Linked DNA regions of Homo sapiens: region 2 is linked to region 1. Evidence: fine-mapped expression QTL. A gene starts in region 1. The other region holds a variant in brackets. All regions are shown on one strand. Distances are from middle to middle. Region 1 holds the start of FBXL16 (F-box and leucine rich repeat protein 16). Region 2 holds the start of JMJD8 (jumonji domain containing 8).

Region 1 (5,354 bases):
GGGTTCTCCAGGTGAGGGGTGCTCCAGGTGCCCTCCGGAGCCAAGGCACATACCGCCTCCCATATCAGTCTCCAGGACCAATGGAGGGGTGCGGGCCTGAGCGGTATCCACATCCCCCAGAGGAGATCGAAGTCTGCTGAGCAGCCCCCTTTGTCCAAGCCACTTCCCTCTGGGGTGTGAGCTGTTCTCCAAAGGTATCCTCTACAAGGGCCTCCCGCCACAGGAGGCGATCCAAACTGCTGGTGCCAGTCACCTTTCATGCTGCTGACGCATCGCTGTCTCCCTCATTCGCCAAATTTGCCATGCACCTGTGACGTACTGAGATGGAGGCTCAGTGCCCAGGGACAGGGTGGTGGGGAAGAAGACCGCACCCTGGCCCTCAGCAGGCACAGTCAGCCAATAGCTCATCAAATGCACCATCAGACACCAGGCAGACACAGGCTGAGAAAAGAAGGTCCTTGGTGCTGGGGAGGTGAGGACACGGGTCTGTGGCCCTGTCCTCCTGAGGGAGGGCACCTAGGGGAGAATACATTAGCCAAGGTCTGAAAGGCAAGTAGTCACCCAGGTACAGGTGGCAAGGGAGTGCTCCAGGCAAGGGGCCAGGAGAGGAGTGCTCCAGGCGAGAGGTGCTCTAAGGGAGGGGTGCTCCACATGAGGAAATGCTCCAGGAAGGGGTGCTCCAGGGGAGGGGTGCTGCAGGGGAGCTCCAGGTGAAGGGAGGGGTGCTCCAGGTGAGGGGTGCCCCAGGTGAAGGGTGCTCCAGGTGAAGGGAGGGGCACACCAGGTTAGGGATGGGGCACTCTCCTGGCCCCAGAAGAAGGCCAGTGTGGCTGAAGCTTCATCCTCAAGGGGCCAGGTATAGAGCGAGGCTGTGGGCCAGCCGTGCCAGGCACTCAGGGCTGTGCAGTCTTCAGCAAAGAATGAACAGGGCCCTGGGAAGAACAGGACCATGTCTGCACGGCAAAATGGCCCCGCTGCACCCTGGGGAGAAAAGGAGATGGGAGAGGGGTGGAGAGACCAATGGGGAAGTAGCTGCCACCAGCCATGGTGGAGACAGACAAAGTTGCCCGGCACAGGTGGGGTCACAGAGGTGGAGGGTAGGTGGGTCACAGCTGGTGACAGAGGTGGAGGGTAGGTGGGTCACAGCTGGTGACAGAGGTGGAGGGTAGGTGGGTCACAGCTGGTGACAGAGGTGGAGGGTAGGTGGGTCACAGCTGGTGACAGAGGTGGAGGGTAGGTGGGTCACAGCTGGTGACAGAGGTGGAGGGTAGGTGGGTCACAGCTGGTGACAGAGGTGGGGGGTAGGTGGGTCACAGCTGGTCACAGAGGTGGAGGGCAGGTGGGTCACCGCTTTGGAGGAGCACGGTTGGCCTTTCTGTGATGATCTTCCACACACTCTTCCCTGCTCAGATTCCCCACAGGCAGGGCTAGCTTCTTGGGCCTCGCCAGGGTTGCATGACCCAAATGCCTGACTCCCACGCTCACCCTATGCACTTGGGGTGTGTCCAGCCCACCCTATGCACTTGGGGTGTGTCCAGCCTGCCCTGTGCGCTTGGGGTGTGTCCGGCTCCAGCCCCAGCTGGGACTCAACACAAGCACAGCTTGTTCTCTGCCTGAGGCCCTGGCACCTGCTGTGGTGAGAGCCCCAGGCACGAGGTGAAACCCTCCTACCGGGAGCAGTCCACGCCTGGGGTGGAAGCTGCTGCCAGAGGGCCAGCCTGCCAGACCATGCACCGGAGACACCCAGATAGGTTGGACCGCCGCTCCCCTGTTGCCCCAACTGTCTTCACGGGGCTCGTCCTGTCTGCCCCACTCCGGGCACCTTCTTTGGTCAGTATCCAGGTACCGGGCAAGACTTACGCAGAAGAGCTGCTGCGCTCACCCCAGGTAGACCCAGTGGCGCCCCCACAGCAAGCACAGAACCACCCCACCCCGGGACCCAGCCAGGGTGCCGTCAGTCTGACCCTCCTTCCCGCTGACCCCAGGCCTCACACCGGCCCCTTCGGCCAGGCTTCCCATCAGGACGCTGGGAACAGCAGCTGGTTTCACTCCTATTGAGATACTCTCAGGAGCCCCATTCAGCCCTGTAGCTCTTTCCCGGTGCAAAGAACCCCTCTGCTCTCCCCACACCTGCTCCCTCCCCCGGCCCTGCTCCCAGGAGACCCCAGGATAGGGCGCCATTGGCCTCCATTCTCCTGCCCTGAGCCTGCTGGGGCGTCTGGGGTCTCCAGCGGTCCCCACCGAGTCCTCCACCTAACCTAGCACGCCCCACCCCTGCCCCGGGCTGCAGCAGCCGCCGCCGCCTCCAGCCTCCAGTTTATTCCCGAGGGAACTTGCCAGGCTCCTCGGATCTTTGCACCCCCATTCCCGAGCCATCCCTCCCTCGCGCCGTGGGGGGGTCTCAGCTCCAGTGGGGCACCCTCAGGAAGCCCCCGCCAGAAGTCACCACCGCAAGCCCTCGGGTGCTTTCACTGTCACTGTCTGAACTGATCCGTGCAGTCACTTGTTTTCGCGCTCTGCGGGTGTGCCAGGGTCTCCAATGAGGGGCTTCCGGCCGGGCACGCAGCAGGTGCGCGGGGGGTGTGAGGGCTGTGAAGGGTCCTTGCCGTGGGCTGGGCGGGAGGGTCCAGAGACGGGGGTCTGACCACCCTGTCTCCTCTGGGCCGGGTCTCGCCTTCCTCGCCTCCCCAAGTGGTGGCCAAGGGCCGGGACGCGCGGTGCCGCCCCGGTCCCCATAGGACCCCGGACCCCTGGGCCACCCGCCGGCGCCTGCTCTCCCGCCTCCCCTCGCCCTCCCTTCTGCCTCCCGCGCCCTCCCCGCCCGCCGCGCGCCGGGGTTTGTTATTGTGCGGGTGCCCGCGGCGAGCGGGGCGGGGGCGCGTGCCGGGCCTGGCGCGTGCTCGTGGACGCCGTGCCGGGAGCGCGCCGCGCGCGGGGGCCGGGGCGGGGCGGGGGCGGGGCTCGGCATTCTCGGCGCCCCCGCCCGGGCTCGCGAACCCGGATTGGCTCGCCACGCCGGGAGCGCGCGAGGGCGCGGCGTTTGGTGCCGGGCGGGGGGCGCGCGCGGCGCCGGCGGCGGCCACGGAGGAGCGCGGGGAGGGCGAGGGGAGGAGGAGGCGCCCGCCTGGTTCCCTGCAAAGCGGCCTTATTTATCTGGGCACAGCCTCAGCCTCCCCGGTGGGAGGCTTGGGGCGGCCGATCCTCTCCCACCGGGGAGCTCCTTTCCGTGCGCTGCCGAGGGGGCCCGGCCAGGACGGGACGCGGGGCGCAGGGCGCGGCCGGGCCCTGCCGGCCAGTCCAGCACCCCGGCGGCCCCCGCGCGCCGACGCCCATGCCGGGCTCCCCATGACGGGAGGTCGCCCGGCGGACAGCGTGGCATGAGCCAGGAGCCCGGGCCGAGGTAAGGTGCGCGTGCGGCCGGGCTGCGGGGCCGGGAGGGGGCCAGGCCGCACCTCCGCGGCGGCCACAATGAGGAGGGGGCGGGGTGGGGGTGGGGGCCGCGCCGCCGCCGCCCGGGAAGGGCTTACGTAACGGCAGCCCCTTCCCCACCTCCCCCGCGGCCGCTGGGCCTCGGTCCCTGCCTGGCCTTCCCGCAGCCCCGCGCCCCGGCCCCTGGCCCGGAAGAGGGCCGCTCCCCACTGGCCACTCGGCCGGGGCTGGGGGTCCGTGCCTCCTGGGACGCCGAAAGGAGGAATTGTAGGCCCCCGGCCTCCACCCCGGGCGCCTGGTCGGCTCAGAGGGCGCCCCCGGACCGAAGTGACAGGCCAGAGACCGTTAAACTGCATGGGGGTCGCGTGGATGTGCGGCCTGAGGGGCGGCCCTCCCCGGGCGGGCGGCTTCTGGACCCGGGGCCTGCGCTGAGCTACTGCCCGCGGGAGGAGGAGGGTGGGGGGAGGCTGGCACCTTCCTGGTTCTGGAGGCGGGACCGGGCCTTGGCCAAGGTTGGAGGGCCTCAGAAGGGAAACGGCACCTTCAGACCTGCTCGGGAGGGGTCCGGTGTCCTCCTGGGGATTAGGTGGGTGGAGAGCGTTCCCCACCCATCACCTCAGGAGAGAGGGCTGCGGTGGCAGCTTCAGGAACTGACGGCCCAGCGGCCACTCCAGGCCCTTCCCAGGCTCCAGGCTCTGTTCGGGCAGCCTGCCCTCCGCAGGAGGAGCAGATGGCGGAGGCCACCTCACCTGCCTCTTCCTTCAGGCCCTTCCCCCACACCCGTGCATCCGAGGGCCCAATGGCCAGGGGCAGCTCAGGCCTCCCTGGACACAGGGCCGTCTCCCAGCCCACCCCCTCTGTGGGGTGCTGGACAGCAGCCTTGGAGCAGATAGGCCTGGGTCAGGCCAGGAGACTGAAGGGTTTTCTGTCTCCCGGACCAGGGCAGAGGCCTAGTGGAACCTGGCTGGTCTGGCCAGAGGTGGACACAGGGCTGGACCTGGAGCCGCCTGGAGGGGAGGGAAATTCAAGGCCCAGCTGCAAACATCGCTGTGTGGGGGAACCCTAGGACTCACTTGCCCCACTCCCTGCCCCCTGCCACCCCAACTGCCCCTCATCTGGGGCCAGACCCTTGAGTTCAGCCCCTCCATCGACAGACTCACTGCCTCCAGCTCACACCCACTTCCGGGGCGGCTGGACGAGTCCTACCTCCCACTGATGAGAAGGACACAAACAGCTTCCTGTGTGGGAGGCACGGGGCCCTTGAACCAGCTGGACATGGACCCAGGAAGCCTTGTGTTGCTGAGAGTTAGGGATCTCCCACCCAGGTGGCACTGTTCAGCCACCCGAAGACCCCATCTCCTTGCATGTGGGCACCCACTGCTGTGCCTCCCATGACTGGATTGGCAGTGAAGGGAGCTCTGTGGGTGAGCAGGTGACTGAGCCTTCCCCACCAGTGGTGCAGGAGGAGTCAACGGCCAAACTGGCTGCAATGTGTGGGTTCAGGCCTCATTCCTTCACTGGGCAGGAAAGAGGGGTGATGGTTAGTGGCAGCTGCCTGGAGCAGTAGGCACTAGGGGCCCAGGCCTCGCCTCTGAGGGTGCTCATGCTCTTCCGAGCAGGGGCTGAGATGAGGCCTGGATCCCAGCACCCACTCCCCAGGGTGTCCAGCTTTCAAGGCTGAGCTGCCCTGGGCTTGACCATGGGCCCTCAGTCTGCTGGGGCAGCAACACGGGTTTCTCTTGAGGCCACGTGCCTGCTGCGCCATGGTGCCCCTCCTCAGAGCCCCTGGTGCACCCCCAGAAGCATCTCAAACTGGGGGCGGGAGAGGAGCTCTGCCGCTGTGCCACGTGCCAAGTGGCAGGGACGCGGGTGTGCCTGCGTCACGGGGCTGCCACGGAATGTGTCAGTCTGCACCCTGTCCCCAA
Region 2 (5,354 bases), 22 kb after region 1:
CTCTGTTCTTCCCCCCTTGCTTCTGGAGCTCTCCAGGCACCAGCAGCGGTGGAGCCGTGAGCTGCCGTTCCCATGCCCATCTCTAGCTGCCCCGCAAGTCCCCACTGCCCAATTCTGTTTTCCTCTGTGCTGCTGTAGGGCGGGGACCGGGGTTTTTGTCTTTCCCATGAGCCTCAGCTTTCCTACCTGGGGTGGGCCTGGACATTGGGTACTGAGGGCAGCTGAATGCTGAGGGCTTGTGACTGTCCAGGCAGAGAGGGACCTGCATGGGGTGCTGGGTGTCCAGGACGCCCACAAGTGACCAGTGCCCGCCCCTAGGTGGCGCAAACGTGGACCATGCTGCGGATCATCTACTGCAGCCCTGGCCTAGTGCCCACTGCAAACCTCAACCACAGTGTGGGCAAGGGTGGCTCCTGTGGCCTCCCGCTCATGAACAGGTAGATGCCGGGGGCAGCTCTCCCCAGGGGCTGGGGCTGCTCGAGCCCACCCACCCATGGGCCCTTCCTGCCCCCAGTTTCAACCTGAAGGATATGGCCCCAGGGTTGGGCAGTGAGACGCGGCTGGACCGCAGCAAAGGAGATGCACGGAGCGACACAGTTCTGCTCGACTCCTCGGCCACACTCATCACCAATGAGGGTAGGCTGGGGTGGGTAGGGGTGCTGATGGGAGAGGGGTGGGGGTGTCCCAGACGACCCTGAATGCCCGCCCCATTGTCGGGCAGATAACGAGGAAACCGAGGGCAGCGACGTACCTGCCGACTACCTGCTGGGTGACGTGGAAGGTGAGGAGGACGAGCTGTACCTGCTGGATCCGGAACACGCGCACCGTGAGTGGGGGTCCGGGCAGGGTGGGGTTCAGAGGCGGATGGAGGACAGACTCAGAGCCTCCGCTGGTCCCTGCCTTCCAGCCGAGGACCCTGAGTGCGTGCTGCCGCAGGAGGCCTTTCCGCTGCGCCACGAGATCGTGGACACGCCTCCCGGGCCCGAGCACCTGCAGGACAAGGCCGACTCCCCGCACGTGAGCGGCAGCGAGGCGGATGTGGCCTCCCTGGCCCCCGTGGACTCCTCCTTCTCGCTCCTGTCTGTCTCACACGCGCTCTACGACAGCCGCCTGCCGCCCGACTTCTTCGGCGTGCTGGTGCGCGACATGCTGCACTTCTACGCTGAGCAGGGCGACGTGCAGATGGCTGTGTCTGTGCTCATCGTCCTGGGTGAACGGGTGCGCAAGGACATCGACGAGCAGACCCAGGTGTGTGGTGGGCGGGGCCTCCCCCCTGCAGCGCCGCCCCTGGCACCCAGATCCTGACTGCCGGGCGCTCCCTCCCCCAGGAGCACTGGTACACTTCCTACATCGACCTGCTGCAGCGCTTCCGCCTCTGGAACGTGTCCAACGAGGTGGTCAAGCTGAGCACCAGCCGCGCCGTCAGCTGCCTCAACCAGGCCTCCACCACCCTGCACGTCAACTGCAGCCACTGCAAGCGGCCCATGAGCAGCCGGGGCTGGGTCTGCGACAGGTGGGGCAGTGGGGTCGGGAGGTGGGGCAGGGGCCTGCAGGCAGCGCAGCAGCCCCCGCTGAGGCACCCTCCCTCCCGCCCGCCCCCAGGTGCCACCGCTGCGCCAGCATGTGTGCCGTCTGCCACCACGTAGTCAAGGGTCTCTTCGTGTGGTGCCAGGGCTGCAGCCACGGCGGCCACCTGCAGCACATCATGAAGTGGCTGGAAGGCAGCTCCCACTGTCCCGCAGGCTGCGGCCACCTCTGCGAGTACTCCTGACGGGGCATCTGCTGGGCTTGCCCGGGCGGCCGCGTGCAGAACCCCGCCTGGTCTTGTGCCCGAGACGGGCGGAGGCTGGAACTTGAGACCTCAATAAAGGAAGTAGAGCCGCTGTCGGCACTGCGTGTCACCCCATAGCGCGGCGGGCTCGCCGTAGGCCCGCGGGGCAGCTGGCGGGCGGGGGCTTTCGGCGGGGTTGTCGCCATGGTAACCGGCGGCGCCCATAGTCGCTCTCGGGGCGGCCTTCCCAGTGCCTCCCGTAGAGGCCTCTTCCGGGGCGGGCCAAAGGAGGTCACTTCCGGGGTCCGTCCCGGTTCCCGGCCGTTGCCACGACGACGAAGCTGCCGGCCAATGGCTGGCGGATGGGCCCAAGGTTCCCGGCGTGCAGCGCGGCTGCCTGAGGGCGGCAGGCTCATGGCGCCGGCGTCGCGGTTGCTCGCGCTCTGGGCGCTGGCGGCTGTGGCTCTACCCGGCTCCGGGGCGGAGGGCGACGGCGGGTGGTGAGCGGCCCGGGAGGGGCCGGGCGGTGGGGTCACGTGCGGCGGGCGGGGCGCGGGCTGACCCAGCTGTGCCCGCAGGCGCCCGGGCGGGCCGGGGGCCGTGGCGGAGGAGGAGCGCTGCACGGTGGAGCGTCGGGCCGACCTCACCTACGCGGAGTTCGTGCAGCAGTACGTGCGCCCCTGATCGCGGAGGTCGCGTCCTGTTCACCGGCCCGTCTGCCCCGACCGCCCAAGGCCGCCTTCCCCTGACCTCGCGCGCACGCGTGGGGCTGGGGCGGCGAGGCTGGCGGTCCGGCCTGGCCGCGACTCTGCCCTTCTTTCCAGGTACGCCTTCGTCAGGCCCGTCATCCTGCAGGGACTCACGGACAACTCGGTGAGCGCGTGCCCGTCCGTCCCCGGCCACTCTCGCCCGTGCTGGGCCCGGCCACTAAGTCCCCTCCCCGCCCCCGCAGAGGTTCCGGGCCCTGTGCTCCCGCGACAGGTTGCTGGCTTCGTTTGGGGACAGAGTGGTCCGGCTGAGCACCGCCAACACCTACTCCTACCACAAAGGTACGCGGCCTCACCCCTGGGGCCCGCCCATTTGCCAACACCGGGGCGGCTGGACCAGACGGTCCTGACCCGTCTCTTTCCTGCAGTGGACTTGCCCTTCCAGGAGTATGTGGAGCAGCTGCTGCACCCCCAGGACCCCACCTCCCTGGGCAATGGTGAGGCAGCCCTA[G/C]GCGGCGGTAGGGGGTGGGGACGCTTGGAGTCTCCAGGTGCCAGGATCCCTGTCCCCGCCGTCTCTGTTGGCAGACACCCTGTACTTCTTCGGGGACAACAACTTCACCGAGTGGGCCTCTCTCTTTCGGCACTACTCCCCACCCCCATTTGGCCTGCTGGGAACCGCTCCAGCTTACAGCTTTGGAATCGCAGGTGGGTGCTTCTTGGGACTGGGAAGGACTGAGGCTTCTGTCGGTGAGTACAAAATGGGTTGGTCACCAGGTGCTCATAACCCCACAGGAGCTGGCTCGGGGGTGCCCTTCCACTGGCATGGACCCGGGTACTCAGAAGTGATCTACGGTCGTAAGGTCAGCACGGGGTGGGGGTTGAGGCTTGGGACTCGCTGACCAAAACGGGCAAGGGTGACACTGCTGCTCATGCCCCCAGCGCTGGTTCCTTTACCCACCTGAGAAGACGCCAGAGTTCCACCCCAACAAGACCACGCTGGCCTGGCTCCGGGACACATACCCAGCCCTGCCACCGTCTGCACGGCCCCTGGAGTGTACCATCCGGGCTGGTGAGGTCAGTGGCTGGCAGGAGAGGGCCAGGCCAGGCTAGAGGCCCGCAGCTAATCTCTGCTGCACCCCCTTCCTCCACCAGGTGCTGTACTTCCCCGACCGCTGGTGGCATGCTACGCTCAACCTTGACACCAGCGTCTTCATCTCCACCTTCCTCGGCTAGCCAAAACAGCTGGCAGGACTGCCGGTCACACACCAGCACGTCCCACCTCGTGCTCACGGATTTTATTACACAGATAGTGGCGGCAATGGCCTCAGCCCAGCCCACCCTCACCTGCTTTTCCAGCCCACAAAGGGGGACGATCACGGCCCAGCAAAAGCGATGCTGAGAGGGGAAACAGTCCAGAGTCCAACAGCAGAACTTGGGGGAAGCGGTCGGGGTGGCCAGGAACATAAACTATGTATAGGGGCCGGGGGCTTCTGCCCAGGGCTCCCCTGGACCAGGACGCCAGGTAGGGCAGGGAACCTCAGTAGTCCTCCACCCAGCCATTCTCAGAGATGAATGCGTCAATAACCTCCTTCATAGCCAAGTTGGGGATGAGCTGTTCCTGGGTCAGGGGGCTCCGGGTCACGGGGTCAAAATGACCCACACGCTGCAGTGACAAGAAGGGCAGAGGGCAGTCATGGGGCCCAGGACCATGCCACTGGCCCTGCTCCCCCAGCCGCAGGCCTCACCTGCAGGTGCTCCTCGATGTCCTTGCGGTCGTAGGTGATGCCACTGGGCGTGATGCACGGCTCCCGCATCAGCTCAAAGCTGATCTTGCCACACAGGTAGTCGGGGATGTCTCGCTTCTGTGGCACAGGGGCACACGGTCAGAGGCTGAAAAGGGGCACTGCACGAGCACCTGCCAGCCATCGGCAGCAAGCGACACACACTCACCTTCCTCTTCTCATCCACCTGAGAAAAAAGCTCGTCCATGTCCGCCATGTACTTGTCCTGTGAAGAGTTGAGTGCTGTGCTTGGGGGAGACACCCCACCTCCCTCCTCCATGGGGCACAGACCCAACACAAGGCGGGGATGCTCCCACGCCACGTGCACACACACAGACCCACATGTGGGTGGGGGGCACCCTCACGTGCTTGGCCTCAATGCAGGCCTGCTGGGCCCGGACGTGGCTGTCGTCCTCATCACCCTCGTGGTTTCGCTGGCACTCTTCCAGCTCCCTGGGGGTTGACCAGGAGCCGGTCAGAGATGGACCTGGCCAGATGTCTGACCACACCCCAATCTCAGAGCTAACATCCACACTTCCCCACATTTCCTGCTTGCCAGTAAAGCCTTCGATAAACGCTTGTGTCGGGAGTCGGTGATTCAGAATTATCCCAAGACAGGGCGGCCTGGGGTGAGGGTCCCACCTCTCACGCTCCGCGGCAATGAGCCTGGAGAGGTAGGAGTGCAGCTCGCTCTCCTGGTGGATGCGCCGCTCCTCAATGCTGTTCCAGCGCTTCTTCTTCGCGATTCGAAGAGCGCTGGGGATGTCGTCCCCGAAGTTCAGCCGCTGCTCCTTGGCCAGGCTGTAAGCTGGGGAACGGGGGCTTCACGTCACTCTCTGGCCAGTCCACCCGCCTGGCCCCAGAGGCCCCACAACCGGGCAGCTTGTCAGCCAACCTCGCTGCAGATTGGCGATGGCCTCATCATAGCTCTCCATCTCCAGCTGGCACTGCCCCAGGAAGAAGTGCGCCTTCACAGACTGCCCGTCCAGCTCCAGGGCGCGCCGGCAGTCGGCCAGGGCCTGCTCGTGCTGCTGCATCTTCAGGTAGCACAAGGCCCGGTTGGTGTAATACACGGCCACCAGCGGGTTCCGGGTC

Evidence for each region. PIP is the estimated chance that this variant, and not a neighbour inherited with it, causes the effect.
Region 2: its variant is fine-mapped to the expression of FBXL16 in blood mononuclear cells (TOPMed, PIP above 0.99).

What each region holds. Positions count from the first base shown.
Region 1 is chr16:703,558-708,911 of GRCh38, reverse strand. FBXL16 (F-box and leucine rich repeat protein 16) reads left to right here and starts at 3,111. Exons shown (of 6, transcript NM_153350.4): 1 at 3,111-3,400. RefSeq lists enhancers at 1,290-1,905, 1,906-2,522 and a silencer at 1,811-2,027.
Region 2 is chr16:681,151-686,504 of GRCh38, reverse strand. STUB1 (STIP1 homology and U-box containing protein 1) reads right to left here. Exons shown (of 7, transcript NM_005861.4): 2 at 5,155-5,353; 3 at 4,902-5,067; 4 at 4,625-4,712; 5 at 4,429-4,485; 6 at 4,224-4,340; 7 at 3,704-4,141. The coding sequence ends at 4,016. JMJD8 (jumonji domain containing 8) reads left to right here and starts at 2,171. Exons shown (of 9, transcript NM_001005920.4): 1 at 2,171-2,271; 2 at 2,350-2,439; 3 at 2,596-2,644; 4 at 2,724-2,820; 5 at 2,907-2,975; 6 at 3,064-3,183; 7 at 3,271-3,338; 8 at 3,418-3,552; 9 at 3,631-4,835. The coding sequence starts at 2,186. The coding sequence ends at 3,711. It overlaps WDR24 (WD repeat domain 24), which reads left to right. Exons shown (of 9, transcript NM_032259.4): 4 at 319-437; 5 at 515-636; 6 at 722-826; 7 at 908-1,248; 8 at 1,329-1,513; 9 at 1,603-1,883. The coding sequence ends at 1,771. RefSeq lists enhancers at 1,742-1,791, 4,141-4,728, 4,729-5,316, 5,287-5,336 and a silencer at 2,192-2,501. The variant G/C (reference allele first, on the strand shown) is at 2,990.